4 linked regions of the Homo sapiens genome follow. The protein of the gene in region 2 interacts with the protein of the main gene of each other region in a pairwise test. Each region holds a gene or a part of one and is shown on either strand. Other genes may lie near its edges. The genes, in order: PLP1, DYSF, MYBPC1 and MYOM2.

Region 1 (6,972 bases), on a different chromosome or scaffold from region 2:
GTTAGAAAAAAGGAGGTTTATGGTGTGTGGGAGAGCTAAGAACAATGGGTTCAATTGATAGACTGGAGATGCTCTCAGCTTCTGAGAGCCTAGAAACTCCATCTATAGATTCATCCCAGAGGCAGAGCCAAATAAGGGCAGATGGAAAACATAGCTTTCTTGGGAACTGGCTTTCGGTTCCTCTGAGGCAAAAATACAATCACTCTGTAGAACCCTGAATCAATTCTCCAAAATATGGTGCTGTGTCCTTGTTTGCAGTGTCTTAAAATAAGTCCCTGTCATATTTTTATTCTTTATGTCTTAAAGTCGTTCAACCAGACTCGCTTGCAGAATATTAATTGTGGTTAAGCAGAAATCAGGAAATTAAATTGAAACTGCTTTTGAATGGAGCTCCTTAACTGATGACTGACTTGTCATCCCTCCAGCTAAAGATTCCTTTCTCTCCAGTCATTTGCCAGCTGCAACTATGGGGCAATGAAATGATTTTAAGACAGCTTTCTTTAAGCTGGTCATCAGAGTGCTGTCCAAGGGTGCCAAATTCTAACCTAGGGTTGTGAAAGGGCTTTAATGCTATGTCCCCGGTGGGCTAGTAGGCTGGCCATCCAGGGTGGTAGGTGTCACTAATTTATTTTAGTACTGCCCTGCCACAGCCTGTTTACATTTACGTTGCCCTTTCCATACCTGCTCTGTCCTTTAAGTACTAAACCTTCCATCCAGTACTATCCAAATAAAACTAAATATTAGTCACGTATGAATTACTAAGGGATCATTACTGGAATATCCAAACAATTTAAAGAGAAGGTAACAATAACTTAAATCTAAATGCACCGGGGACTGGGGCACCACTAAGGTATTGAAAAAGTAACCATAGTTGACTCTGAACATTCTGAAACCCAACTTCGAAGAGAAAAGAAACCTTTAAGTAGGCAATAAATTGGTTTCAATATCTGCGTTTTAACACAAGCTCAGACATGTACTTACTGGATTTCTTTGGGCAAATTACTTTGCTTCTATTTCTTAGTGTCTTCAACTATAAAAGTAGAAGTAATCTATTCATATACTATTTATTTCAGAGAAATGTTATGAGAATGACTTGGATGAGCTGAAAAATGAATGATCTCCTTGAACAAGGTACGATTATTAAGTTTCTATTGTGAAGTCAAATAGAACAATTCACTCAAAGGACACGATGTTTGATTGAGAACATTCTTAATTTTATTTTCTTTAATTTTATAAAATACACTTTGTAAGATAAGTTTCTAAAAGTTTATCCTTTATGTGTGTTAAAATTGCAATTCTATATCAGAAATGAAGGAAACACTTTCAGTTGATTAACTCTCTTTGTGTGTGTATATATGTGTATGTATGCATGTGAGGTTTTCAGGGAAGGGTTGGTTATTTGTTATGTTATTAAATCAAAACAAAACACAAGGTACGGATTACTTCACTGTCCTTTATCTTGATTGGTTTCTTACAAAACATTTTCCCTCTCCTCCTTCTATGCAGCCTGGAAGCTTATCTTGTATACTGGTTTGAAAACAAGTATCAAGTGTCTTTTTGTAAAGCTCTTACATCTCCTTAAATATTGCTGAAACCACTTTGGGGGAAAAGAACAACACAACTCTTTACAACAAAAGAACTGTAGTACAAATCTTTCCTTCAATTAAAACCAATCAGACTTTTTTTTTTTTTAACCCAAAGTTAACAAAAACAGGAAAAGACTGAAATCTGGGAGCTATTCAGGTCTCAAACTCTTTCTGCCTGTCCTTTTTCCTGGAAGCTTACCAACTGAATAGCTGATGACTGGTGCATTCTGTTATGTGATCTATATCAGGAGAAAATAACCTTTATGTTAAACCTAACTCTTAACACACCAAGATAACATTGCTAAGTAAAATCATTTTCCATTAGCTAGAAAGAACGATCAGATTACTCAAATTGAGATTCAAATTCACCAAATCTGTTTCTGCAAAGGCAGAATACTTGTAGAAAATCCCAATAGATTCAACTAGCCAATTTTTAATATCATTTGTGATGCTTAATGTCCAATTTTCCTAGTTTAAAAAACAGTCATAATCAAAGAATTATTCTCCAGACATTTCTGATGCAACCCCAAATAAGTAATAAACAAACTGGAATACATGAAATGTGCATCATTCTAAAACAAATCAAGACCTTCAAATCACCTACGATGACTGAATGGATAATACCCCATGAAATGAGCACCATTGTGAAGATATGACAGAGGCCAGAGTACACAACTAATTAACAGAAAAAAAGACATGCTATCCAAAGAGTTATCTATCCTGTGTCTACCAGAGGGCCATCTCAGGTTACACCATTAGCCACCAGCAACTGCTGCTCCTCAGGCCAGTCTGTTCTCATGTAAGCTAGTTTCCTTCTATTCTCAGCTCCTTGGAAACCACAGGGTTGTCATGGTAGCTGTTATCAAGGAGAAGGGAGTGAGAAGATGCTGACAACACCCTGTTTCTCTTCCCTAACGAGGTGTAAGGCCAGATGCCCCCTTCGTCTACACAGATTCTACGCTCCCTTATGCTGTAAGTAAGGTTGGCTGAGTTAGGGCTTCAGTAGTCCATCGCCATCGGGGTCAGTGCTCTCTTTCTGTGGGTGAAAGATCCTTGCTTTGACCCCCTTCTCCCAGCTGCAATAGGCAGATTTGGGCAAACGCTCTTATTGTTTTTCTGACATTCTTTTTTCTTCTATCTTCAGTGGTAATAGAGAGACCAGAATGAATTCCATTTTGTACACCAAAGAGAATATATTTGGCCCCTATAGATGGCAAGAGGACCAAAGACATTCCTTCTCTGTACCTGAGCATCTTTCCTTCCACTTTGTTTCCATCAGTGGAAGTACCCTTTGAGAAGAAATTACTTTCTGATCCTCAGGAGATGCTTGAAAATTCAATTAGAGCCTCCATTCCTTTGTGACTTGCAGTTGGGAAGTCATCTTCTTAGGCATTTCCCATTTCTAGCAGGAACCAGCTATGAAGCAAAATGACTAAAAGAGGTACATAAGAGGGGAGAGTCCAAAGAGAGACCTTAATCACTGCAAGACTCTCCTTTCTTGTTACACTCATCAAGTAAGAAGAGGGCCAGTTGGTGGCAAAGGCAAAGAGTTAAGATGGGAGACGCAGCATTGTAGGCTGTGTGGTTAGAGCCTCGCTATTAGAGAAAGGGGGATTTCTACGGGGGATCAGAACTTGGTGCCTCGGCCCATGAGTTTAAGGACGGCAAAGTTGTAAGTGGCAGCAATCATGAAGGTGAGCTGTAGGGAACAGAAGAGAGAATGTGAATGAGAGTAGAAAAGAAAGCACTCCCTCCTCAAATCCCTTTGGGAATGAGGAAGGGTAGAAATAAAATCATAACTAAATAAGGGAAAAACCCATGCTCTGCAAAAAGCAGTACATCCCAGGCTTGGCTTTCTCCATATACACTTGACTGGAAGTCCGATGTCTCTGAGGCATCATGGGTCTCATGGCCCAGGCCCAGAGAATCAAATCATAAAGATTTATTCCACACCTCTGTTTGATCTAGCACTGAGTTTTCCTCAGGGAAGTGAACAATATTTGGGCTTTGCCACATCAATATGTCCGAGTGACTTAGAGTCATAGGGTGCTTGCTGTAGACACACAGCCACATCATGCAGTAGAGCTCTCCCCTGGTTAATGAATCAATTCGTTTTACAAGGTGAGAAATTACTTGACTCTGTATGGAAACCTCAGCAGTAGGGGCCAGGAGTTCTGTGAGCTCATCTTGTCTGATCACTGCTTATAAAATAACTTCAGATAAATCACTTCACCCTTCAGTGCCTTAGGTTTTTAATCTGCACAATGAGCACACTACATTCACAGGGCACTGTAGCACTATCAGCAAGACCTGGGACATAGCATTGTATTATAATCATAACAATTCTAATAATGTTAGGAGGTCCTCCCAGTATTTCCATATGAGTAACTAAATCCACTGGAGAGTATCCAAAGTGGATTCATATTGATAGTATATAGAATTCCAGGCTATAGCAAGTCATGTTTCGTGATGTTTCAGTGTTTTGTCACTGATCTGATCAAAATGTATTGAGAATTAACCGTAATTTATGACTGCAAAGTACTTGGCAACATTACATGTTCTATAAATACTAAATATTATCATTCGTGTCTATGAATCTCTTACCTCTTTCCTCATACCACTTTTCTTGTTCCCATCTAATTTGTGATGTCTTTCTGCCTTGCCAATGCAAGTAGAAGTACGGAGCCTCCACCCTTTGCTATCTTCCCAGAAGCTTCCCTCCAGCATTTCAAGGATGGAAGCAGTCTACCTTCTTGCCTTTCAGAATAGCTGTACCCACACTATCTCAGGCCTATTTACTTGCCAAGATCATTCAAAGTCAACTCACCAGGGAAACCAGTGTAGCTGCAGCCCCCACAAATGCAGCAATAAACAGGTGGAAGGTCATTTGGAACTGCAGGAAAATGAAAGAGGAAGAACTGTTTCTTGCAACAGCAGTAATATGCTCCACTGTAAATCATGAATACAGCTTTCTGAATGTGTTGATATCTTTCTTGTGTGCTAATTCCACATCTCTAACTAAGTTTTCACTTCCCTAAATGTGGGCCTCCCAGTCTTCAGTGTACACCATAGCACCTGGCCCATTAACACCCAGATCACAGAATAGTCATGAAATAGTACAGTACTCCAAAATAATTAACTGGTTCCCTACAGTTGTGCCCAGGGGCCCAAAATTTAAAGTCAACATTTTGCTGTCAAAGAAATAATTTACTGCCTGTCTCCCCCGGATTTACTTTTATTCCCCTGCCTCATTTGTATATAATATCTGTTCTCAATACAGTGCTTTCCCTTTCAAATGTACTTATTTTACCTCTCATTTGAGATAAAGAAGTTCCAAATTGAAAATGTTTTCATAAAACCTATGAATGCCTCTGTGCACAGCCCATTTTCTTGATATGGTTTTTAACTAAAGGAATGAAAATTTTCATGTGGGGGATTTTGCCATTAGGCTCTATCTTTACCTAAAGCTACAAACTTCTCTTTTAAGAGGGGAAGGGTTGGAAAGGAAGTCTTTCTATGCAACTCTAGAGAAAACAGGTGTTTTACCTTCTATGCTCATTGGCTCAGGCACACTTAGCCAACATGTTGTAGAAGGCAATCGGCTAATTCAAAATCCAGCAAAGGGAAACTTTCAGTCCTTAAAATTGAAGGCCATGGGTGTAATTTGTATGGTATTAGCTACTCCCTTGTAAAATAACCCAAATAACCCACTCACCTCAGCTGTTTTGCAGATGGACAGAAGGTTGGAGCCACAAACCTTGCCAGGGAAAGCATTCCATGGGAGAACACCTAAGTAAGACACAAAAAGCAAGCAGGGTAAGCTTTATGGAGTTACGGGGCCACATGGAGACTTTCCCCCAGAGCCCTTCTTCCATCTCTAATTATCCTGGCTGTAAAGTTGGATTCTACCAACAATCAGGATCCTCTTTTCTACAGGTTTACAAAAAAGAGAAGGTGGTATTGAACAGTGGTGAAACCTTGTGTTTGTTATTGAAATGTGCTGCTTTGGGGTTGTGAACAGCAGTCAACTAGAGTAGGCCAATGTGAATGGCCAAGAAAACTCCCACCACTTCCAAGTTCCCTTCCCGGGGAAGAAACCTCTCTGGTTTCAGTAGGGAAGGATTAATAAACTAAGACCCAATCATTCATCATCTTATATTTTTCTCATAATCACCACCCTCCTTACACTAAGAAAATAACCAAATATATAGTGCTTCCATAGTGGGTAGGAGAGCCAAAGCACCCGTACCCTAACTCACCATACATTCTGGCATCAGCACAGAGACTGCCTATACTGGCAGAGGTCTTGCTGGGGAAGGCAATAGACTGGCAGGTGGTCCAGGTGTTGAAGTAAATGTACACAGGCACAGCAGAGCAGGCAAACACCAGGAGCCACACAACGGTCAGGGCATAGGTGATGCCCACAAACTAAAATGATTGACATGGGGTGGTTAGAAATCAGCATCAGCCTGCAGATGTAGAAACACAAACTGGGAGATCCTGGAGTGGCGTGTGCCAGACATTAAAACCAGGTTCCAGGGCTCTCCTTCAAATGAAATTAGTGAGCAGGGCACCTCTGCCAAGGGTAATTGGCAGTATCTACTAGATAACTGGCCCCAGTATAACGGAGGGTGGGGGGAATGGGTAGGGGAAGAGTGAGGAGGATCCCTGGGTTAGAGAGGCTTCAGAGGATGTTTTTGGGCAGATAAGGTGTAAAGAAATCAAAACAGATCTTGAAAGAAAGTCGTGCCATTTTGTGCCTTAGGCTGAGCTTAGAACATGTTCCTTGCCATAGGAACATTTTTGTTCCCTAGCCATTGAACAAAGCCAATAGGAGATTAAAATTTCAGATACAAAACCTTTCTAAGCTAACTGCTGGCCACAAAAAGACATTGCTGGAACCCACACATGTTCAGCCGCCAAAGGATCTTTAACTCCAGAGACTGAAAACAAATGTGCACCTCACTCAAAGCATGGATAACCCTCAGGCAATAAAACATTCAACATGCAGATCTACTCCAATTCCCTCTGGGACCTCGAACTGTGCAGGATCCCAGAACATTGTAAATTTCACCTTGGAGTTAATTATTTAATTTTTATTATCCATCCTCCCTCTCAGATCAGGTGCCCAAGTCTCAATCACATGAGCAGCATTTTAGACTCTTGTCCAGTTAGATCCACTCTTGTGGTACCTACTAGGAAGGGAACAAAGGGATACCAACAGATGGCTTAGAAATGGTCTGATTGTACAAAGCATCCCACAAAACTCATGCTTTCTGTTTTGAGAAGAAATTTGCTTAGGGAACCTTTGAAAGGTGAGGCTAAGCCAGCTGGGCACCACGTTCTTCCTGACCTTCTCGTTCGGCTGCAGCCATCGCTTCCTCAC
Region 2 (7,692 bases):
TCAGAGCCATATTCCTTGGTGGAGGGATGCCAGAAACAGGGAAGATACTGGAGGGCAGTGGTCCGAGGCCAGCGCACCAACCTGTCCCCCACGTCTCATCTCTTCCAGGCCTCGCTGGTCCTGCAGGTGTCCTACACACCGCTGCCTGGAGCTGTGCCCCTGTTCCCGCCCCCTACTCCTCTGGAGCCCTCCCCGACTCTGCCTGACCTGGATGTAGTGGCAGGTGGGTAGCCCACGTTGGCCTGGCTGGGCCCCAGCAAGAAGGCCGGCAGTGGCACTTGAGCCTGGGGGCTGGGAGCTGCAGCGAGGCTTCCCAGCCTTTGCTGCCCTCCCCAGGTTGGAGGCTGCCCAGGCCTGGAAAGAAGAGGGTGCAGTGGGTGGGAAGTCCTGAGGGCTGCCTTCTGCTGTGCAGAAAGAAGGGGCAGCAGGCACGTTCCCTTGGGCGGTGCAGGGAGTAATGTGAGGGTGCCTCCAAGCCCCAGCTGCCTGGGGACGGGGCTGAGCCCAGGCTGGGTGTTCTGAGCTGTGCAGTTCCAAGAAGGGTGTGTGGGGATGGGGTCTGACCCAGGTGATACCTGAGGCCCCACAAACTCCCCAGAACCGAATGTTTCCCTACCTCAGCACCCAGCAGGCCTTTGGTGATGGTGTGTGACAAAAGAACTAGTTTTTTTTCTTGAAAGAGCCCTGAACTGAACTTCAGGGTTCCAGTCCTGCCTTTGACACTGAGTCTCTGTGTGACTTTGGGCTGATTACTTTCCCTCTCTGGGCCCATAGATTATTTGTGAAGGGAGCAGACTAAGTTAGCTAAGTGCTGTGCCTGTCTCAGCTCTCTTCACTTGGTTCTGCCAGGCTGGTCAAGCGAGGACCCAGCCCGGGGTGGCTGGCTCTCCACTGGTGGGCCTGGGTGTGGGAGCCTCCATGTGGTCCAGCCTGCTGGGGTTGGGAGGAAGCTACATAGACGGGCTAGTGGGCACTTGCCCATGGGAAAGATTCTAGAGTTTTTCTCTTAGTGAAGGGAGCTAGAAGCAAGCACAGCATTAAAACCGGAGCAGCCCATGTCTCAATTGAGTGTGCCCTGTGCCTGACCTGGGGCCAGCCCAGCACAGGGCTCTGTGGTGAGGTCGGCAGAGCAGAGCTGTCTTGTTGGGGCTCAGCACTGTCCGAGCTTAGAGATGGGAGATCAGTCTGGACTGGAGTAACCTGGTAATCCTGAGCTGTGTGGCTGGAGTGGGCTCAGGGGAGGAAGGAGAGGTGCCCGTGGTGGCAGAGGGTGGGGAGCAGGGAGGGTCCGAATACTCTGGGACTGTGTTGAGGTGGATCTGACAGAGTTAGGTGCAGGCCAATCAGTGGAGGCTTCCAGACACGCCTGGGAGGTGGTGAGAAGGAACAGGTGCCACTGGGCTCCACAGCTATTTCTGAGCTTTGCACCAGGCTGGGGTGGGCGGGGAAGGCAGGGTTGGGGATGGAGGTGCAGTAGGTTGGTTTCCTTCACCCCAACCTCCTCCCTCCCCTCCCGGGGTTATGCCCTGCCCACAAGACAGGCGGGGGACAGAGCCGGGCCGAGACTTGGTCCCTGCTCAGTGACAGCACCATGGACACGAGATACTCTGGAAAGAAGTGGCCGGCCCCCACGGGTGAGACACGGGCCAGGACTGTCCTGATCCCAGACCCTCCCTGTAACTGTCTCACTAGCTGCCATGGTCAGCTTGCTGGAGCGGGGCCAGGTGGCAGAGGACTCCTCCTGCAGGACTTGGCGGGTGGGAGGGCTAGGGCCATTCTGTTTTCTTCCTGTTGACTAACTGGACTGACTGCCCTCAAGTTTCAGCTGCTGGAAGCTCCTCTTCTTTCTACCTTATCCATCCTGGCTCACTGATGGGGAGGGAGGAGGGAGAGGAAGAGGGGATGAGTCTTAGGGCCCATGCCTTTTGGATCTTCTGCCCCCTGGGCTGGGTCCCAGGGGCAGGGGCAGGGGCAGGGCCAGAGGGATCCAGGCCTCATTAGGGCCCTCTCCTCTTAGACACAGGAGGAGAGGAAGACACAGAGGACCAGGGACTCACTGGAGATGAGGCGGAGCCATTCCTGGATCAAAGCGGAGGCCCGGGGGCTCCCACCACCCCAAGGAAACTACCTTCACGTCCTCCGCCCCACTACCCCGGGATCAAAAGAAAGCGAAGTGCGCCTACATCTAGAAAGCTGCTGTCAGACAAACCGCAGGATTTCCAGGTGATGAACGGGCTTTCTCTGACCCCAGGCTCCTCTTCAGCCATCAGCTGCGGGTGCCAGGCACCTGCCTGGTTTGTCCAGCTTCAGGGGAAGATGTGTGTGGGATCCTCAGGGCCCTCCTGTGGGGGAATCTGTAGTTTCCCTGGGCCTGGGCAGATGCCAAACAGGGAGTTCACATCTTACATCCACAGAATAAGCTTCTGCCGAGACCTGTGGTTTTGCGCTTAAAAAAAAAAAAAAAAAAAAAGTCACTGCAGAGATTCAGCATGTCTTTGCATCTCTGATCAGAGAAAAACCTGATTTTTCTAACCAGGGTATATCCAACCAGCAAGCTCCTGGCTATTCAGGTGTGGTCTGTGTCCAGCACCTTCCGCATCACCTGTATACTTGTTAGACATGCAGAGTCTACTCAGACCTGCTCTACCAGAATCTGCATTTTAACAAGATCCTTACCTCAAAGAAGCTCTGTCTAACATCTTTTTTTTCTCCTTATATCTATCCCCCTGCATATAGCCATGGATTTTTCTGAGAGTCATGTGGAATTTGAATTTGTTCAAGCTCATCACAGAATAAAAGCTATTAATATGAACACTTTGACACATTTTTATCCAAAAATCCATCCCATTTTATTTGCTTTTAACTTTGGTCCTTTGCCTATTTTTTTTTTCTTTTCAAAAGAATTTTCTATTTTGATGTAGTCACACAGTGATATTTAACTCTTTACAACTACTTTTAAGGTTAAAAGCAAGAATCTTAAATCTCTATTTATAATACTAAGTGCAACAAATTGCAAAAATATATTTCTATTCTAAATCATGGTAATTTAAGCAGAAGTCCTAGCTCTAACCACTGTTTGCCCCAAAAGACAAAATTCTAGCCCCCATACTACTATTCCCCAAACATGTTCATATTGCCTTTGTTCTCTTTATGGAAATACCATATGTTTATTTTAGACACTTTGGAAAATATATTAAAATGAGGAGATTAAAAATCACTCATCCATCTTCCCATTGCTATTAAGAATATATCCTCCCATATTATGCAATTTACAAAAAAAAAAACAGTTGGTCAGTAAATAACAGTTGATTCTAAAGTGGAGCCAGTAAATATCTTATTTTTTTCCATAGAATTGCCTTAATATTGTAAAATTTCATATTTTAAAATATCTTACCTAATATTTGGAAGCATAGACGTTCTTGAAGTCTTCATTTACTTACAGCTCAATGGCAAAAATTCTTAATTTATTTCTCAGAATGTAAGAAAGCATTGCATCTTATAAAGAATAAAGACTATTTCTGGGGTCACTTCACTGTGTAAGTTCGACCTCTGAGGGAATTGTCAATAAAGAATATTCAAGCCACTTAAAAATGCCAGTATCAATGGGGTCTCGGGTGGGGCTTGTGCCAATGGCTGAATGACATAAATGGGGGCTGTATCTGCCCACCCCTGGGGTTTAATGTGGGTAGCCGACGAGGGGCAGCCTGGCAGCTCTTCTATGGAGCTGTGGAATTTTATAGATGTAAGGGGCCTTGGTGGGAAAATATGATAGTTCGTATAATGCTCTTCCTAATTCCTTTTTAATACTTTCCCCAAGAAGCCAGTGGTGAGATGGTCCCTGAGATTTCTGACTCTTGGGGTGGATGGTGGGTGGTCCTTAACTCTTCCCCCTTCCTCCTGCTCTTTCCTCCTTCTGGCTTTCAGATCAGGGTCCAGGTGATCGAGGGGCGCCAGCTGCCGGGGGTGAACATCAAGCCTGTGGTCAAGGTTACCGCTGCAGGGCAGACCAAGCGGACGCGGATCCACAAGGGAAACAGCCCACTCTTCAATGAGGTGGGAGACATGGGGCATGAGGGCCAGAACCTTGGTGGGCCTTCCAATCTGGAAGCCCAGTGCAGACACCTGGCAATTCATTCAAGAGTGTTTACGTATGGCGCTGACCTTGGGTGGTGAGATGTGCTGGCTCCCAAGGAGGTTATCTGTGGGACTGGAGAAAGGGCTCCTGCTCTTACTTCTCCTGCTGCTCCACATCCCTGTCACCCTATAGGGCCAGCCACCCACCCAACCCTGAAATGACCACGTCTGTGAGGCCAGGGGCAGATCACCCCAGAACTTGTCCAATCCCCAGAACTGTGCCCAATCCACATTTTCTGAGGGGACTAAACTGCTAGGCGTGGAGGCTTGGGGGTGGTGGTCCTCCCTCTCCCTGGCCTGAGGGATCAGCAGGCACTGATATGTCTCTCTTTGCTCTGAACCAACAGACTCTTTTCTTCAACTTGTTTGACTCTCCTGGGGAGCTGTTTGATGAGCCCATCTTTATCACGGTATGTCTCAGCAGTCAAAGTGTTCTCCGTGGGCTGTATGTATGCACATAGGTGTCAGTGCACACGCGTGTGTGTTTGTGCACGTGTGTGCATGTGCACGTCAGTGTGAATGCGTGAATGCGTGTGTGTGCCTGTCGGTGTGTATGTGAGTATGTGCGTGAGAGGGAGACGTGTTAAAGCCTGACATATGGATGATGTGGAGTAACTCACAGTCAGGCTCTACGGGTCACAGAAATGCCTGCAACAGCTCAGCTGGCAGGCAGCAGCTGCGGGAGAGCCCACTGCTCAGCATCCCCCTGGGGCCTCAGGTCAGGGTCCTTAAATCACTTGTGGCAATGAACATTTAAGGTTCCATCTTATTTTGTTAATCCACGTGCCTGCTTCTGACTGAGATTCTCTTTCTCTCTGGGCCTTGGCTCTTCCCCCATCTCCTCTGAAGCGCACTGCAGCCTAGTGGCTCTAAGTGTAGGCTCCGGCACTAGAGTGGATTCCAGCTCTGTCTATGCCGTGTAGGGATTGTGTTTTCTGTACAAGTCTCTGTGCCCCTATTTCACCTGTGAAATGGGGATAATGACAGTATCTGCTGATGGGGTTCCTGTGAGGGCTAAACACTGCTTAGAACAGTCTCTGGAATTGAGTAAGTGTGAAGTGTTGGCAGTTATTGTTTGGGAGGGAAGAGCTATTGGGTTGGCCGTGTGGGCCACATGTTCCCTGTGAATGTGAGTTTCCATGATCTTTCTCTGCAGGTGGTAGACTCTCGTTCTCTCAGGACAGATGCTCTCCTCGGGGAGTTCCGGGTAATTGCTTATTTTCTATGAAAGCAGTCAGTTCTCACTTCTCCGTGTTGGTGGAGCCTCTGTGGACCATGGGCAGGGGCTCCAGAGATCCTGTGTTTCTCTGCTTTGGGAAAATATAATTTCAAAGAACAACGCCAAGCCCTCTGCACAGCATCTCCTTTCACCCCAGAAAACCTCTCCACAAAGGTAGAAGAGAAAGAAAGCACTTTTTGTCACTGAAGAGGCCTTAAACCAGAGTGAGATGTACATCACAGGCAATGATCCACTAAGATGCTGCAAAGACAGAAAGAAATCTCACGCTAATTTAGCCAGCGGGTCCAACCCATTGCCCACCACATACGTTCTCAAGAGAAGCTATGCCCCACCCTCAGGTCAGGGGACTTTACATTTCAGACCTCCTGAGAATGACATTTGTATACTAAAGCTGACAAATGGCTTATTTAGTTTCTTAAAAAGATGTATAGCACCTTTGGTCACACCGAGTTCATCCCAAAGTCACCTGGTAATCGGGGTGACCATCTATGTTAGCTAATTTGTTGTGTCCAGAAGACCAAACAAAAATCAAACTCATATTTTTATGACAGGAAGTAGTTTTACAACTTGGAGCAAGGTGCGCACGGGAGTTAGGCTCCTATCTTCCGACAGAAGCTGGGACACAGGGGAGCCGTCTCCCTTGGTGTTTATATTTCAGACGTCCTGAGAATGATATTTGTATACTAAAGCTGACAAAAGGCTTATTTAGTTTCTTAAAAAGATGCATTTCAAAGAGACAGGGAAAGTGTAATATATTTACAAGTTTTCTAAGGTAAGTGTTCTGACAAAAAGAGAGGGGAGGGAAGTACTTCTTCCCTTATTTCCAACAAGCAGAATCAAGACCCTTATTTGTAATTTGGATTTTCCCCCACCTCTGGGAAGGCCGTGTGAGATCTGAGTTTGGGCAGCCCTCCTCCTCATCCTGGCCATCTTGGGCCAGTGAGACCCAGCGCTCTCTGCCCTGACATCACTCTCACCCTGGGATGGGAGTGGGGTTCAGATATGGATCCCTGGGGGAGGGAGAGGCAGTGGAGAGAGGGGAACCCTGCCCCAGCCTCCTCACTTGTCCCAGACAGTCCAGAAGTGAATAGTCCTCTTCTGAGAACCGAGAGCCAATGGATTTAACAGATTACGTAAAGTAAAGGTAACTAGTAATTGCACAGACTAAAGGAGACCTGTATGATTTTTTTTTTTTTTTTTTTGAGATGGAGTCTTGCTCTGTCGCCCAGGCTGGAGTGCAGTGGTGTGATCTCAGCTCACTGCAACCTCTGCTTCCCAGATTCAAGTGATTCTCCTGCCTCAGCCTCCCCAGTAGCTGGGATTAGAGGCGTGTGCTACCACGCCTGGCAGTTTTTTTTTTTTTTTGGTATTTTTAGTACAGATGGGGTTTCACCATCTTGGTCAGTCTGGTCTTGAACTCCTGACCTTGTGATCTGGCTACCTTGGCCTCCCAAAGTGTTGGGATTACAGGCATGAGCCACCGTGCCTGGCCTGCATGGTGTTTTAATGTAATTTGATGTAATTGTTACTAATTTTCTCATTTTGAAATTTTCAAGGATTTCTCAAAAGGAAAGAAAGAGCACAAGCTTATTTTCCCCTCTCCCCTCTATCCAAGTATATCATGCCTTCCTTCTTTAAATTTGTATTTTAAATATGAATTTAAAATAAGGGGCTTGGTTCTGCCTGTTGTCAGAAGTTACCTTAGAATTATTTATTCTGCCCAATAAATAATTGCTGGGACCAGGCGCAGTGGCTCATGCCTGTGATCCCAGTGCTTTGGGAGGCCAAGGTGGGCAGATCACTTGAAGTCAGTAGTTCAAGACCAGTCTGGCCAACATGGTAAAACCCCGCCTCTACTAAAAATACAAAAATTAGCTGGGCATGGTGGTATGCGCCTGTAATCCCAGCTACTCAGGAGGCCGAGGCAGGAGAATCGCTTGAACCTGGGTGGCAGAGGTTGCAGTGAGCCAAGATCGCACCATTGCACTCCAGCCTGGATGACAGAGCGACACTCCATCTCAAAAAAAAAAAAAAAAAAAAAAAAAAAAAATTACTGGGTTGGACCTGATGGCTAGATCAGTGGGTGAGATTTCTTTGTCTTTGCGCTGTCTTCTCAAATCATTGCCTGTGGGAAGAAGTCACAAGATAAAAAACTAAGTCTGTTTACCTGGAGAAGCATTTTTTAAAAGAATGAGCTTGAGCCCAAGTCATTCTGTAACAAATTAAATCTTAATTATGTTTTGAGTCTTGTTCTGAGAACCCAAGGGTTAAGTCAAAAAATTATTTTACTTGTATCTAATTATAAAAGTAATCTATGA
Region 3 (8,668 bases), on a different chromosome or scaffold from region 2:
TGGGTTTAACAGCCATTCATACTATTCTTTAATGAACAGAGATTCTGCCACGGAAGAAAGGCTATTGCAATTGTCTAGTTTGAGGTTGATAAAATTTCTTTTTGACTGGAAAAGAGAAATTTCCAGTGAAAGGTGATTTCTTGGCCGGGCACAGTGGCTCATGCCTGTAATCCCAGCACTCTGGGAGGCAGAGGCAGGTGGACCACCTGAGGTCAGCGGTTCGAGACCAGCCTGGCCAACATGGCGAAACCTCGTCTCTACTAAAAATACAAAAATTAGCTGGGCGTGTTGGTGGGCACCTGTAATCCCAGCTACTTGAGATACTGAGGCACAAGAATCACTTGAACCTGGGAGGCAAAGGCTGCAGTGAGCGGAGACTGTGGCACTGCACTCCAGCCTGGGCCACAGAGTGAGATACTGTCTTAAAAAAAAAAAAAAAAAAAAAGAAAGGTGATTTCTTTACACAGTAGGAACCGGGGGCAATTAACTTTCGGGCACTTACTTGTACTCAATTAATAATTGATATATAAATGAATGTATCAAAGGCATCCTGGGAGATCCCCACAAATCTGAAACTGCCTACAACATCCTCCCAATTTGATCGGAATAACTTAATTGTACTAGGCCTTAGGTTCTGTAAGAATCCAAAGTGGTGTAAGGTAAGTTTTATCTGGAATAGACAGTACAAATAACATAGTTCTCCAAAGAATACATAATATACAATTGATGATGGTAGAAAGTAGAACAATGGGAAGTGGTTACTCCTTAAGAATAATACTTGCTTTCTCCAAAAGGGCTCACTGAGCCACCCAGCATATTCCAAGAGTCTAAACAAGGACCGTTGACTAATTACTTCCATTAGACTTCCTCTTCGAGATCCAAAGTTACATCTGTCCTTCCTCCTTCTCCTTAGAAGAACCAGCTCTCCCAAGATCTAAGAAGAAAACTCCCAGAATTAGGCCACGGTAGGCTGGGAAGTAGTTGAGTGAGACATTTTTTGTACCTTCAGGTGCTGAAAACTCAGCCTCTTTTGAGGAGTTGCCAGATCCTCCTGGATCCTAGGAGGGCCAAACCAGCTCATGTGTCCTATTAAGATTCACAGCAAGTGGTCATGGCCTTCCTGGGCATGGCTTTACGAGCTGTGGGGAAGAGTTCAGAAGACCCATATGGGCTGGAGGAGCCTGTTCTTTGGGAGGGTTTCTGCAGGTATTTTGAAATGATTCTGAAGAACTGGCTCTAGGCCATGTTTTATTTTTCAGAGGGAGGCTTATATGCAATCAAACTAACCCCAGTGAAAATGAAATCACAGTTAGGAGAAGAAGAAAGGACCAGAATAGTTCATGAATTGCCGTACTCCTTACTCTTCTAATGTAAACAATATTAAAATGCAATTATTTCACTAAGGAAAGCTTTTCAAGGTACAGTTCCTTTAAGAATCAGTTCTGCTGGTAAGGGAACCAAAAAAATCTCTGTACTTCCTCAATGGATTTTAAATATATCAGTAACTCTTCTTGCCCCAATCCCCATCATCCAAATTTACACTAACCAAAGAATTTATGGGTATAAAATTACTGTCCTGGGTGGAGGAACTCCTACACAGAATAGCAACATGCTTTTATAGCAAAAGAAGATGATGGAGTCTTTAGCATCCATGCTGTTTTATTCAGAAAGAAAAAAATATATATTGGGGGGGTGGGGGCTGAAGTTAAAGATATATTTTCCTCTTTGCAGCTCTATAATTTCATTCCCCATAAAAGAGTGAATCAGACTGAGTTGTCAAATGAAAAGTAAACTTCATCGCCTTTGCGATCAGAATAATTTAATTAGCTTTATTGGCTCTTACAGGCTGTCACCTTATTTATTGGTTTTTCAGCTTTCTTCTCATTTTCAATTAGGCTTTAAAAAAACAAATGCAAAATCATTCACTAAATTCAGAATAATTAAAACAATATTGTGTTTCCAGTTTGGAAACATGGTAGAATGTATTGCTTCTGGGTACACTTCGGAGAGGTTAAAGTGACAGAGCAGATAAAAAGGACACTTAGTACACACGTAAATCATTTGCATTACAAATAAGATACTTTAGCAGGGGTTGGACTCCCTGCCTGACAGTCAGGATTAAGTTCCCATATTAATACATGCATTTGGTGTGGTTATTTTGGGTGAAAGACTTCATCCATCAATGCCCTCTGCCACTAAGTAAGGCCAACCTGTAAACTGATCACCACAGCCTGTCAACACTGGTTACTTAATTATATAAAGAAAATATGTTTAAAAGACTTTTGATAATTTGGTTAGTATTTCAACATCTTTTTCAAGGTTCCTTAAAATAATAGCTAAAGCATTTTTAAGAATTAAAAACTGAAAACTATGACTATTTTTATGTTTCCTGCTAATCTTTCTTTTTCTTTTATTTGCAGAAGGGAAAAATAAAGATTCAGTAAGCATTAATGAAGATGAATATAAATGAAATAATATTTTTAAAAGATATTTTAATTAAAAATTAAATTCAATGCATGCATAGTATTAATTTGTGCTTATTATTATTTATTTTCATAACTACTAATTCCAATTTACTTCTGTTACCAATTGGTAGCTTTAATACACTAATTTTTTTATAGAAAGGAGAAACTTTGTTAGGGAAAACATTTCTTCTAAGGAAGAATATTTTTATACTTTCAGCTTAACTATTCTTAAAGCCTACTACATATTATGAAATTCTCTACAATAAAACTCATGAAAGAACAATCTATTCATGATATTCAGGGACATCCTTTTTTATCAGGTGTTTGGTTTTCTTTCCATGCAAGAATTTAATAACGAACCTCCAAAGGCACTGATAAGAACAAAAAAAACCCTTCGTCTGTATATTTTAAATATGTTTCCATTAAAAAAAGTAGCAAATATGGAAATAATGTCACAAATTCTTTTTTGAAATCTTGATCCAATGTATTAACCATTTGAGAAAATATTTTAAGTCTCCTACTCTCTGCAAATTGCAAATACATGGTAAAAAATTTGTGATTAAATCTAAGAAAATATGCTTGAAAACGTAATCTGTTTACCATCAGCAATTAACATCCTTAAATTACACTTTAAGGATTCTTTACAATTGAATGATAGAATTATCATTTGATAATTTTAGTCAATATCCCTTTAGAAACTATCGTTATCAGAAATTTTTCAATTCAATATACTCTCGCTGTATTTTTCCTCTGGTCTGTTTAATCTAAAAGATCGTTTCCTTAAATCATAGTGATTTTATTTTCTCATCTAGTTAAGATATTTGTTATTTGTTTGAAGATAAATACCAAAATAAACACTTTATTCAGGAGTACAACAAAAAGATTTCTAGATAAGTCTTACCCTCTTTCTTAGTGGGTTCTGGCATGGCCACAATAAGATGTTATTCTTTAAAGAGTCTCCTTCCCTCCACGACTAGTTGACAGAAACCCCACAGGCAGGCGAGAGATGGTGCAGGTCGGTGTGACAAGCAGTTGGGGAGAAACCCAGTGCTTTTATACTGCCTCTGAACATCAATCATGATGGCACCTCCCTTTCTTCAGCACAAGGATGCAGGAACTTGACAGCTATGGGGACCTTTCTCACATCTGTTGTCTGCACTCTGCTCTCTCGCCTACTGGAAGGAATCTCCTGCCCATCTCATGTGGCTGATGAGAACACCTCTAACTTTCTAAATTCAGCTGCAGCCTCGTGCTCCGTCTTGCTCTTCTCTCTCTGACAGATGCATGTGCTGACTCAGGAGTGCAAAAAGTTTGCTGGATGATTAAAAAAACAAATTAAAAATCATAATATGCCAATCCAACCTATACCTTAATTTTCACTAAGATTAGGCAGAAAAGTCTTTGTATTCAGATGATCACTTTTATGCTCCAATTAGCTTTTCATTTTCATCAGTCCTTAATTATTGCATTTATATTTTTTCTTATTCCTCATTGATATGTCAATATTAATTTTTCAAGCCAAATCTCTAGGTTAAATAACTTGTCTCATGTTCTTCTCTAAGAATAGCAAAGATTTCTATTAGGGGATACTCTGCGTTTGCATTTTTTTCCAAAAACATCATTTTTCAAAATTATAGGACATATAAAAGAATGAGGCAATGACACATGCTACAACGTGGATGAAGCTTGAGAACATTACACTAAGTGAAAGAAGTCAGTCAGACATACAAACGTAGACTATAAAATAATAGATCACTGCTGGGCTCATGCCTGCAATCCCAGCACTTTGGGAGGCTGAGGGGGGTGGATCTCCTGAGGTCAGGAGTTCGAGACCAGCCTGAACAACATAAAGAAACCCCGTCTCTACTAAAAATACAAAATTAGCTGGGCATGGTGGTGCATGCCTGTAATCCCAGCTACTCGGGAGGCTGAGACAGGAGAATCACTTGAACCCAGGAGGCGGAGGTTGTGGTGAGCCGAGATTGTACCATTGCACTCCAGCCTATGCAACAAGAGCGAAACTCCATCTCAAATTAATAATAATAATAATAAAAAATAATAGAACACACATTGTACAATTCCACTTATATGAAATATCTAGGACAGGCAAATCCATATGGTGAGAAAGTATATCAGTGTTTGCCAGTGGCCTAAGGGAGGTGGAATTGGGAGTGACTGCCAGTGCATATGGGGTTTCTTTTGGTCATGATGAAAATGTTCTGGCATTAGATAGTGGTGATGGTTGTACAACTTTGTGAATATATTAAAAACCACTGGATTATACACTTAAAAATATATATGGAGGCTGGGTGCAGTGCTGGGGCCTATAATCCCAGCATTTTGGGAGGCCAAGGTGGGAAGATCACTTGAAGCCAGGAGTTGGAGACCAGCCTGGGTAACAAACCAAGACCCTGTCTCTACAAAAAATAAAAATAAAATAAAAAGATATATATGGGGCCTGGGCAAAGAAAGTCAAATAGACTAGTAGCTATTGTTTTGATTCAAGTGATTCAATTGGAGGGTACACAAATCTAACTTAAGATGTTGAAAGACTGTAGTAGATGTGGTCACTTTCTCCCAAAACGCTCATGGAACTGATAGAGAAATAGGAACTACCAAGTAGTCAACCTGAAGAAGACACCTTACTTTCTTTGTTCACATGCACTAGGACTAACCTGAGTTTATATGAAAAGACAACTACACACATGCCTTTATTGGTGTGTGTTTTCAAGATAATTTTCAAAAACTTTGATTGATTGGTACTGAAGCAGCCACACTGTCTCGTCTAATTTCCCTTGTGGCTGAGAGTGCAGCTGGTCAGACTTAGCTCTACCAAACTCTGTGCCAAGCTGACTTTTCATATAAGGGTGGAAACTAGACTTAGAACTCAATAGCATCATGCTTTAGTTATGTGGCGGGGAGGGGGAGGAAGCCAGTCAAGATGGTAATGAACATCTTTTATAAAGACAGCCCCTCCTTAACCACATTATACTACTGAACACATTTTTGTACTTTAAAAAAAAAAAACGTTCCTTTGCTGAGTCCGCTCTGGGGATATCAATTAATAGATGAAACATATGAAAGAACCTAGAATCTGAAGTTGGTCCCTTGGGTTCTATTTCTGGATCTATCATTAACCAGCTTAGTTACTCTGAGAAAGTCAGGGGGCTTTCTGGGCCTCAGTTTCTTTTTGTGTAAAATGAGGGGCTTAAAAAAAATGATCTTGGAGGCTGCTGATAGGTTTAACACTGTGATTCTACTTGGGAAATCTCTAAGAGAGAATTGTTTTTTTCAGCATTCCCAGCACACTGAACACCACATATGAAATGGACATAGGGCAGAGTGTCATGTTGCATAAGAATGTTTACAGCGAAGGGCAGATTTCACACATGCCACAAAAGAGGTGCCATGCCATCATTGGCTTCTGCAGAAACCCCATTGGGTTTTTAATACACTGATCGTCTTACTGAAGTGAACATATGCCAGGAAATATTGCAATCCACAGAGAAAGTATTTTATGACCTGGGGAACTTTTTGGTAATAAAGGAATTAATTATAAAAAGGCAAAGCATTATTATAGGAATTGGAAGTATGGACAAATTCTAGGACAAATTATTGTACAGTGTATCAGGTGGTTAAGGTAAAATTTTAAATTAGGATAACAAGTAGACTTGTGTAATTTTCCTAGGGCTATATTGTTTTAGGAATACATAACTCCTATTTCAGATCTTATGCATTCATCTAGAAGGTTGCAGATGCCTTAGCTGTACTCTCAGGAAAGACAGGGGGATGGTCAACAGGCTTTTGTTTCTTTTGCTAAATGCTGTATTAGATTTTTCCTTTTGTATTATTGAGGATGAAGTTTGTTCAAATACAACACAAAACTACAAAATACCAACAGTTGAATCAAGATAGAAGTATTTCTCCCTCATATAAAGCAAGTCTAAAAGCAAATGGCTTAGAGTCATACAGTGGCTTCACAGTGTATCCAGGAAACCAGACTCCTCCTTCTTGCTCTACCATCCTCCTGGTAACCTCATGGTCCAAAATAGCTGTGTATCTTCTAGACACTACATTCCTATTCCAGGCAGCTGAAAAGAAGAAGAAGAAGAAGAAGAAGAAGAAGAAGAAGAAGAAGAAGAAGAAGAAGAAGGAGAAGGAGAAGGAGAAGGAGAAGGAGAAGGAGAAGGAGAAGGAGAAGGAGAAGGAGAAGGAGAAGGAGAAGAGGAAGAGGAAGAAGTCACTTTCTTCATTTTAAAGAGACTTGTTTGAAGTCCCACACACATCTACTACATCCCACAGGCCAGAACTTGGTTACATGGCTATATCTGACTACAAAAGGAGCTGGGAAATGTAGTCTTATTCTCAGGTAAAATTGGAATTCTGTTATTAAAGAGACCAAGGAGAATGGATGTCAGATAGGCAAGTATCAATCTCTCACCTTTCAAAATAAAAGCAATAGTGTTCTCCGCGTTAACCAAAGAATATGGAGAAGTATAAATAGTAAATAAGCAATCTCAAGAATTTCACTCTCTCCCCAACCTCATCCTCATTCCAGTGTGTGAATTAGGGTCTAATTTTCCTTTGTGCTCATACATACGTGTATAAATGTATATATTCATATGTAGAGAGTTCTTCATCTATTTTTTAATGAATGGGATTATACTATTTACATTATTTTCCACTTTCTTTTTCCATGTAACCTCCTCTCACAGACATTCATTCATGTTAATATACATAGACCTAACTCAATCTTTTTTAATAGCTAAATAATTGTTCATGGTATGGATGTGCTGTAGTATGCCATATTTTCTCAATCACATACCTTTTGATGGGCATTCAGGTTGTTTTCAGTGTTTGACCACCATAACTAATACTGCAATCAGCATCATGGTAAAATAACAGAAACTGGTGGTGGTATGTCTCTCTGGTAAGTTGGAGGCACATGGCGGGTGTGGATGGGTGGGGAATAAACAACTTTAAACCTCTAATTCACACAATAAAGAAGAGCAAATTATAGAAGAAATAAAGTTTTAAGTTAAAAAATTAAACAATAAAAATATTTGAAGAACAATTATGACAGTGTTTGAATAATACTCTCATAAGTGGAGACACGTGTTAAAGTAAGAAAATCTAGAAGCTATAGAGAAGGTAACAGATTTGAGTAAATAAAATATTAAAATTCTTTATCTCTAGCAAAGACACCATAAAATCAAAAAGTAAAAAAGGAAAGGAGAAAAAGTTATTTTAAACCCATCATAGAGTTAATATTATTAATTTAAAAGTAGAGTAGAAGATTTCAAAAAGCAATTTACAGAAGAAATAGAAACCATGAATACATACGATATATTGCTTAAACTTTCAGGAAAATGGAAACAAACAATGAGTAATCAGTTCTCACCCATTAAGTTGGCAACTTTTTGTTTTTTTAATGATAACATTCAGGGTATGAGAAACCCGGCAATCTTATACATTGCTGATCAAACTGTTGGCTAGGTAACCTTTTGGGAAAGTGGTCTAGCAAAAATTGATTAAAATTTAAACTATGTATATGCACCAGCCAATTAGTAGGATCGATTCTCACTTTTAAAATCAATCCTACTAATTTAAAAGTATCCATATATAAGATTATGGTTCCTTTTTATTCCTAATAAATATTTGTATTTTCTCCCTTTCCGTTGGTAAGTTTTTCCAAGGTATAACTAATTTTATTGGTGCTTTGAAAGAACTAGTTTATGGTTTAATTATGTTTTCTCTTCCTGATTTCTTTTGGTCAAGTTTTTTTTTTTTCTATATTAAGGATTTAGATTAGACCTTATTTTCAGCCTAGGGCTTTAGCTATACCACATAGATTTTGATTTAATGTTATCATATTTATAATTTCTGAATAATCTGCAATTTGGTTGTCATTTTCTTATTGATCTAGGAGTTATTTAAAAGGGCATTTTTTGGCTGGGTGCAGTGGCTCACACCTGCAATTCCCATTTTTGGACACAGAGACAAGTGGATCACTTGAGAACAGGAGTTCAAGACTAGCCTGGGCAATATAGTGAAATCCCATCTCCGCAAAAAATAAAAAAATTAGCTGAGCATGGTGGTGAGCACCTGTGATCCCAGTTACTTAGGAGGCTGAGGTGGGAGGATTGCTTAAGCCTGGGAGGTGGAGGCTGCAGTGAGCCTTGATGGCACCATTGCATTCCAGG
Region 4 (8,652 bases), on a different chromosome or scaffold from region 2:
TTCAAGAAACGCTTCCTGCTCAGAAACCCATTTACTCTCTCTGGAGTTCACCAGCAGGGTGCTGGGAAGAGCTCACTGAAATGAAGTTGGACCAAGGTTGGGGAAGACGTTTCAGCTTCCATCCGGTTTCCTATCCAAGGTTCTTCTGGGATCAGCCTGACGAATACCAGGCAATTCCACTCCAGCAGACGCATGAGCAATCCCCAGTACCTGCTATTGCAGCAGGGGCTCATGTGTCATCACAGTATCTACTTACACTTATGTTGAGTTAAACCTCAGATGTGTTTGTATTTCTTGGTAAAGGGAAGAGTCAAAATGTGACCTATTAGGTCAAAGGAGAGAATGAGCTACATTGAAATAAGAGGAGAATCGCCCTGGATGGAAATCCTCCTCCTTAGACCTAAGACCTGGAAGAATGTGAAACGGCTCAGGTCTTGAGAGCTCACAGACTAGCTATCCTTCAACCAGTCTGTAACGTCCTGTCCAATGCAACCTATGTATCACTGACGTGACATCCGGTCCTGTGGGCCTGGAAGTCTTCAAACACTTCATGTGTGAGGGGCTACACTTTGTAGTGCTTAGCAAGGCAGAGCTGGGATCACGTGTGCACACTTCCTGCAATCCTCACTCCAATGGTACCTTACTGTGGAAGTCTCCCCGGGAAGTCTTTGGATGGGGGTAACAGGGCACTTTGCCACGTTTATCCCCACATGTATTCCCTGCTCACTTCATGCTCAGGACCACCAAAATCAGGAGGTGTCAGAGGCTTTGCAGAATCCATCAGCCTCAGTTGATTCCACAAGTATGGGGTCACTTGCAACGTGCCAGCCAAGCCTAAATCAGAACCCTTGGATTTCAACAATGAAAACACCTTAGAGCTCCTGGCTCGGGAGAGTAGCAAGCTCAAGTCTTCTGCGCATTTGACTCCCAGTGCCAATGTGCCCTCAACTCCACTTTTATCAATCACATGCCCAACCCAGAAAACCAGCAGGACTGCACGTCCAGCCTCACCCACCCTGAATGTGTGTCCCCTCCGCAATCTCTTCACTCCTTGGGGGACTTCCTATGTTAGAACTTCCCCAGTGTCCCTCACCCAGCCTGGGCCACCACCTCCTGGCCGGGTGTGATGACGTCTTTGCAAGCAAATCCCCACTGACTCAGCACGTGCTGGGTGCCTGCAGCCCTGGCAGCACAGGGCCCTTCTGAGTGGAGGGAACCCTGGAGAGGACTTGCCAAATGCACCCTACAGGTGGAGCATCCCTTATCCAAAATGCTTGGACCAGAAGAGTTTCCAATTCCCGATTTGTTTTTCAGACTGTGGAATACTTGCATTTATACTTACTGGTTGAGCAACTCAAATCCAGAAATTGGATACTTGAGATGCTCATGTAAGCATTTCCTTTGAGAGTCATACCAGCGCTCACAAAGTTTCAGAATTTAGAGCATTCTGGATTTCTGATCTTCAGATTTGGAATGATCAACCTGTACTATTTATGACACTATAAAGAAAATGACAGGACCTGGGCCGATCAGCTCCCCAATGTCCCTCTACTGTCTACATAGAAAGCTGTTTTCCTTTTTAAGGAACTATCTCAGACATGTGTTAAATACCCCCTACACACACCAACCAAAAAAAAAAAAAAGAAAAAAGAAAGAGAGAGAGAAAGAAAGCAGCTTTTCCTCGCAGGGTAGTTTTTGATGTGAGTCCCTGGGGCTCAGGCGCATTGGGAGGCTGAGACTCCAGTGGGGACCTGCTGACCTTCAGCTCAGGGGCCTCCACCTGCTCTGCTGTAAAACAGGGGGCTGAGTGAGGTGGCAGCTAACAGTCCCCCAGCTTGGACAGCCTGTGTGTAGATAATCCTGGCGCCACGCTGTACTGTTAGCACAGACCGTCCCCAGGGAAATATGACTTGCCCGGGTCACCGGTAGGGCCACGGCCGAACCCAGGCGCCAGCTGACTCTCCTGACAGCGTCCAGCCCACTTTCCACCACAGCCCAGCTCCCCGGCCACTCCCGGAATGCTCCTGACACGTTTAGGAATCATGACACCAGGATGAAACGCGAGCCTCTCCTCCAGTGCAGGGGACCACGTGTCTGATATCCCCATCCTAATTCCTTCCTGCAAACAACGTGTGGAGCCCATTCCTCATGTCACCAGGATGGGTTTTAATTTGCAAAAATGTTTGAAGTACAAAACATTGACTTCCACTTAATGAAGGAAATTGTTTGTACAGTTAAAAATGTCAAAGTCAATAAATACACCAAATTAAAGCTTTCTAGAGGGGAAAGGGACTCCCAGACACGCAGCGTTGGCCTGTGCCACAAGTGGCTAAGCCCTTGGCTCCCAAGACAAGTTTTAGCTTGGGACTTGGTTTATTAAATAACGCCTTAAATTATCTTTGTTCCACGCTTTCTTTGAGTCCTGTTTTACTTCTACTTAGTAAGAAAGGAATGTGAAATGGAGAATTAGAAAAGGCCAGGTGTTCCCAGTGATGGCAAACCCCTTCCTTCCGTTTGCCTCCGGTGCCTTCCACGTGCAACCACCCAGCCCCACTGTCTTTCTCCAGCAGGTTGCATTTCAAGAGCACGCCCTGAGAAGGCACAGCCTCTATCAGCGGAGTGGAGCTGAAGAAGTCTGAAGGGTCACAACACACCCAACAGCACAAAGAAGAAAACAGCCGTAAGAACGCTGTCATTTTTGGGCAAAAACTTGCAAGTCCTGACAAGGATTGTTCTCTTTCCCATACCGTGGATAATATAGGCTAGGTCTAAGCTGAATGACCCTCGACTCTTTTTTCCCTTAAGAAAATATCCAGTTTTATTATTTCACACCTTTATAAGTCAGCCCTCTCCTCGGGGGAGGCTTTCGTTTCTGAGAATCTCATGAAACTTGCAGACATCAGTCCACTGACTGGGGGGCCCCCTGGGGCCACGATGAGACCAGGGCTAAAACCCAAAGCACACGCCGCAGGGTGCTAAACGGCACTTAGCAAAGACCACGGCTGTGGGAAATAAAATGTTAGTTGAGCATAAAACCTCGTCAAAGAAATACAGATCCCAGAACTAATTGCTCTGTTTTCCACAGTAAAGGGTGCCTGCGACGGGGTGCACTGGCTCTCTCTTCTTGACCCTGAAGTAGAGGTACTTAGAAAATGTGAGTGCAGAAGTTACCGGTCCTCCCCTTAAAGCCACAAATTAGAAAAGGCAAGAAGAGAAAGACACTTACCCAGACAGAAAGGAAAATTGCAAGGAGGAGAGAGAATTCCTGACCACCGGCTCACCAAGCCACCCACACTCCAGCCGAGGAAGGCAGAGCTGACTCCTGCAAAGCAAGCGCCTGTGCCTCCCTCCCGTTTAAGGTCTGAGGAGCTACTATATATAGACGCCTGGGCCTGCCTCTCCCCACATCAATACCCACATCGTAAATCACCAGCCTGACCTCAGGAGGAAAAGCTTCTTGTTCAAACTGAGGGCGGGGGAAATCACGATTCAAAACTGGAACGTGTCCTTTCTGAGTCCCAAACTGCACTTTTCCCAGGAAACCGGGTGTGACACTTCAGCCCCCGACCCAGAAAGAGAGGGCAGGGCACTGACTTCCCACGCTCCCTCCCCGCAACTCTCCTCCATGAGTTCTAATCCTTACGTGTGAATTCTCAGACATATCTTCAATCCTTTCGAGCTACAGGTTCCCTGGCTCACAAATTGCAACTCCTGAATGAGTCTTTAATAATGACATGGATTTCAGTGAGCATTTGTGCCATTCGCAGGCCTGGACACCCGAGTTGAGGTCGGCTGTGGAGGGAGGGAGGTGCACAAGCCCCTGGGTTTGTGAGCGTGTGTGTGCATGTTCGTGTGTTTGTTCGTTTTTTTTTTTTTATTTCAAGAACGACTCAGGTCTTCACTCGATTGTATCTTAGGGCTATTTTAGCAAGAACTGCCTACCCAAAAGAGGAGCGGTGCCTAGTCGGCAAGTCGGGGCTTATTTATAGCCATTACCACAGACGTACACTGCGTCTACACCACACGGATAATTGCAGGGTGCCCGTCGTTTCGCACAGCGTGTGTCCAAATATAGATAACACACACCTGGCACGGTCCTGGGCTGCAGCCTGGCCAAGAGGCGGGGCCTCAAGGGGATGCCCCCATCTGAGGACCCGGAGAATCACACTCCAGCTGCACCTCACCACAGGGGCTGAGGACTTCGGCCAGCTGCTCAGCCCACGGGGGCTATGCTCCCCAGCTCTAAAACGCATGGAATAACAACTTTCCTGTAAGTTTGTTGTGACAAGTAGAGAAAATATGATAAGAGAATTGCCTTAAGAAACTCCACGTTCTCACACTGGGGTATCAGAGGCACAGCCAAGGACCAGCGAGCAGGTGGATGGAGGCGAAGATCAGATACGAGAAAGACGCGAGCACAGCCTCTTGCTGGGCCCCAGAGCGTTCTGGATGCTGGATCAGGAGGCGAGTGTTTCTGTCTTCTTCCCCTTCGTATTCTGATGGCCTAGCATTTAATTTAATTAGTGTTTGTTGAGTGATTTCTTAGTCTATTCAGGCTGCTTTAGCAAAACACCATAGACCGTGTAGCTTATAAAACACAGGAGCTTCTTTCCCACAGTTCTGGGGACTGGAAGTCCAAGATCCAGGTACCAGCAGACACTGCCTGGGGAGAGCCTTCTGGTTCTGGGACGGCGCGGTCCCTGAGTCCTCACCAAGTCAAGGGGCCAGGCCGCTCTTGGGGCCTCTGTATGAGGATACTGATCCCACTCGGGAGGTTCCACCTCCATGACCTTGTCACTTCCCTAAGGCCCCACCTCCTCACACCATCGTTTTGGGGGTTAGGGTTTTAACCCACATATTTTGGGGGGGTTGCAAACAGCAAGACCAGAGCAAGCAATGTTTACTTCCGGTTTATCAGCATCTCCTTCTCTAGCGAATCCATTTCTCAGGGACCTGGGGGACTTCCCTTCAGCCCTTCTGCCCCCCTGCCTCTGAGTGTGGCCGACACTGGAGGGGCAGTGATGGTGCCTCGTCCCCTCAGGTGGCATCTCAGTCCTCTGAGTCCCAGTCCTGGCATCTCAGTCGCCTGGGTCCCAGTCCTAGCATCTCAGGAGGGGACAATCTCATCCCGGGGAGGGGCCTCTCCTGAGAGAAGGAAGGGCCAGCACACTCCTCCTCCTTTTCTGACATTTCACGGTGGCTGTGCCCTCCTTCTGTGATATAGAAATCCAGTGCTGCGTCTAAGAAAGCCTGGATCTTTCAGCCACACCACCCAGAGAGCAGAGTGTGACCCGGGACACAGATAGGCTCCTGATGGGGACAGAGCTTCGCCTTCTGCTGGGGACAGGAGACCCCTCCCCACCCTCCTCGTAGACCCCCATCTCCCTGAGCCATGCCTGCCCCTGCCCACCCGGGATGTAGCTTCCAAAACTCCCTGGGTGAGGTGCACCTGCAGGAAGCCTGGAGCCAAGAAGGGACAAAAGACGGAGGGAGGCGGTGGGACCAGGCATGGGCCCCGCATTCTCCACCAGACACACCAGCTCTGGGGCAGACAGGCTCCTTCTTGCCGGAGTTCCTTGGGCTGACTTTCTATCATCGGCCATCAAGAGAATCCTGACTAAGACAAAGGAAGAGTCCAGCAATCTCATTTCCACAGCTCAAATTGGCAGCCTGTGAATGGAAAACAGTTGGCCTCACTGAGGATTTCCCACAACATAGAAAAGAAGATCGAAATGCAAAGAGTGACATTCTAAAACCACGTGCCTTCAATCCTGTGGAACCCCAGGCCAGACCATTCATGGGTGAAGTTATGTTCTATACAGCAACAATCCCCAACTGTTTTGGCAACAAGGACCGGTTTCGTGGAAGACAATTTTTCCAAGAACGGTGGAGAGGGGGATAGTTTTGGGATGAAACTGCTCCACCTCGGATCATCAGGCATAAGATTCTCATAAGGAGCGTCCAGCCTAGATCCCTCGCGTGTGCAGGTCACAGTAGGGTTTGTATTCCTGTGAGAATCTAAGGCCGCGGCTCTGAGAGGAGCTGGAGCTCCGGCGAGAATACTCAGTGGCCGCCATTCACCGCGCCATGCGGCCCAGCTCCTCACCGGCCACGGACCCCGAGGCTGGGGTTCAGGACCCCTGTTATATTGCACAGAGCCAAAACTGACATTCGATTCAGGAAAATCAGTTTGGATATTTGAAAGAAATAAAATTATTCTTAAGATATTTTGTTCACTTCCATGCATTCCGTCTCAGAAAACAAATTTTCTGTTTTTTAGAAATTATTTTAGAAATTATCCATGTATTTTAGAAATTATCCATCCCATGTATTTTAGAAATTATCCATCCAACAGGCCAAATATTCAGTTTTATGATTCAAAGGATGACAGCTCACCAGAAAGAGGCTTCGCAGTTGCAGCCACAGCACAGGGAGGGGCAGGGGGTCACCCTCCGTGCTCTCCCAAACCAGGGGGTGATGAGGCCAACAACAAAGGCGTCTGGTCCCCACAGAGCACGTGTGCACAGGCCGCAGAAGGGAGACTGGAAAATCTGGAGGCAGAAAACTCCCTTGAGGGCATCAGCCCCCATCAGCACTGCCTCTCATTCCCAAATCCTGAAAACCTGAATCTCAGAAAACAGCCCCACTTTAAAGAAAAGAGTTTTTTTCTTTATTTTTATTGACTGATGACTGATTGATTGAGATGGCGTCTGGCTCTGTCGCCCAGGCTGGAGTGCAGTGGTAACCTCCGACTCTTGGGTTCAAGTGAGCCTCCCACCTCAGCCTCCCAAGTAGCTGGTATTACAAGTGTGTGCCACCAGGCCCGGATATATATATATATATATATATATATATATATATATATATATATATATATATATATTTTTGGTATTTTTAGTAGAGACAAGGTTTCACCATATTGGTGAACAGGCTGGTCTCGAACTCCTGTCCTCAAGTGACCCACCCATCTCGGTCTCCCAAAGTGCTGGGATTACAAGCGTGAGCCACCATACCCAACCTTGTTCCTTTTTTCTGCCTTTAGAATGTCTTTGTTCCTATTTATGGTTGTGCAGTTCTGTATTTAGAATTTAAACCTCAAGAAAATCACATCCACTTAGATGAATTAACTGTAATGTTTAAATGTGAACCTTCTGAAAATGTTGATTGTGAGAGTAACCTTGTTTAGAGAAATACAATTGTCACCTTCTTAATTTCCAAGAAGTTCAATAGATGTCTCTTTGAGGCCATGCTTAATCCACTAATTGATGAAATAGGTCGCTGACATTCAGAGGAAGCGCCTTCCTTCTAACATTTCATTAAGTCAGTTAAACACGTGTCCACAGAAAGCAGCAGCTCAGTAATGAGGAACCCTTTAGCGACATGAATCGCACAAATTCCCAATGTTTCCAGCATTTCTGAATCATTTTCCAGGAAAGTAGGAAAATAAATGCTTAGGTTTCCTTTGCTTTTTTTTTCTTTTCTGCAAAATTTTGACTTTATTTTATAGTCCTTAGTAAGTTTACCTGCTATCTCTTTTGAGGCCAATATTATTATAACTACACATCAATTTCTGAGTAAAGATTTCCCCAACTACACCATCTTACTCTTCCCCAGACACTCTTGCCACAGCAGCCACCAAAGTGTGGGCTTCTTCTCTCCAAACTTAGCACATTCTCTGTGCTTAATAAAGGAGTTCTGAACTAACTGCCCAATGAATGGATTCAAGAGACATGAAGAACTTACTATTGTTAAGTATAATAGTTAATAGTGGCTCAGAACTAAACAGAAATATACAGAATTGACAAAGCTAGGCTATATTTAGTAATTCTTTACCTCAGCTCAAAAATATATATGGTAGATAGATAGATAGATAGATAGAAAGATAGATAGATATTGATATAGATAGATATAGATATAGACACTTTAAAATATATATACTTTTAAATACATTTAAATTAATATTTATCAAGCATTTACTATGTCTCAGAGTACCAGCAAGTCTTAATACTATAACTCTATGTAGTGGGTAATATATAAGACATGAGATGTCTGAAGTAGACTTTCACTTTTATGTGTGATAAAGTTGCTTCTAGTAGGACAACATTCTTACCCAGAACAAGTAACAATCCAGATAAAATACAGAGTGTGAGAGATGGCAAAAGAGTAATGAAAGAAAGAGAGAAAAACAGATAGGTGAATGGACATATAAGCTGATGGGCAGATGAATAGACAGACAGATGATGATGATGATAGGTTAGATAGATTGATTGATAAAGAGATTGATGGTATATGAGTTACATGATAGATAATAGATAGATGATAGAGTGATAGAAAGATAGATGATAGGTAAATAGATAATATATGATAAAGTGATAGAGTGATGATAGAGATGAAAGATAGACATAGATCAGTGATGGAAATAGATCAATAGGTGATAGATAGATAGACAGGATACACAGACAGACAGATGATACACAAGAGAGCTGTGAGAGCAGCCAGTGGTTCGAGGCCCAGTCCTAGTGAGAATTGTGCTTCCTGAAGTGGGCACTCTCTCTGCACATCACTTTCTATCTCTGGGCTCTTGCCGATTTGTGGCTGGGTTGAAGGTAAGGAAGAGGAAAGAGTGCCGCTGTTGAGAAGCAGGGGGAAACA

The links.
Region 1: the proteins of DYSF (region 2) and PLP1 interact in binary tests that used the Homo sapiens proteins (3 or more experiments, as listed by UniProt).
Region 3: the proteins of DYSF (region 2) and MYBPC1 interact in binary tests that used the Homo sapiens proteins (3 or more experiments, as listed by UniProt).
Region 4: the proteins of DYSF (region 2) and MYOM2 interact in binary tests that used the Homo sapiens proteins (3 or more experiments, as listed by UniProt).

What each region holds. Positions count from the first base shown.
Region 1 is NC_000023.11:103,786,840-103,793,811, reverse strand, and holds the end of PLP1 (myelin proteolipid protein), read right to left. Parts: intron 6,015-6,972; coding exon 5,846-6,014; intron 5,376-5,845; coding exon 5,302-5,375; intron 4,480-5,301; coding exon 4,414-4,479; intron 3,286-4,413; coding exon 3,214-3,285; 3' UTR 1,193-3,213; downstream 1-1,192.
Region 2 is NC_000002.12:71,511,699-71,519,390, forward strand, and holds part of DYSF (dysferlin), read left to right. Parts: intron 1-108; coding exon 109-223; intron 224-1,541; coding exon 1,542-1,634; intron 1,635-2,017; coding exon 2,018-2,223; intron 2,224-3,924; coding exon 3,925-4,053; intron 4,054-4,481; coding exon 4,482-4,544; intron 4,545-5,290; coding exon 5,291-5,341; intron 5,342-7,692. UniProt on the Homo sapiens protein: Key calcium ion sensor involved in the Ca(2+)-triggered synaptic vesicle-plasma membrane fusion.
Region 3 is NC_000012.12:101,589,794-101,598,461, reverse strand, and holds the start of MYBPC1 (myosin-binding protein C, slow-type), read right to left. Parts: upstream 3,492-8,668; 5' UTR 3,392-3,491; coding exon 3,367-3,391; intron 1-3,366. UniProt on the Homo sapiens protein: Thick filament-associated protein located in the crossbridge region of vertebrate striated muscle a bands. Slow skeletal protein that binds to both myosin and actin.
Region 4 is NC_000008.11:2,039,743-2,048,394, reverse strand, and holds the start of MYOM2 (myomesin-2), read right to left. Parts: upstream 3,350-8,652; 5' UTR 3,227-3,349; intron 1-3,226. UniProt on the Homo sapiens protein: Major component of the vertebrate myofibrillar M band. Binds myosin, titin, and light meromyosin. This binding is dose dependent.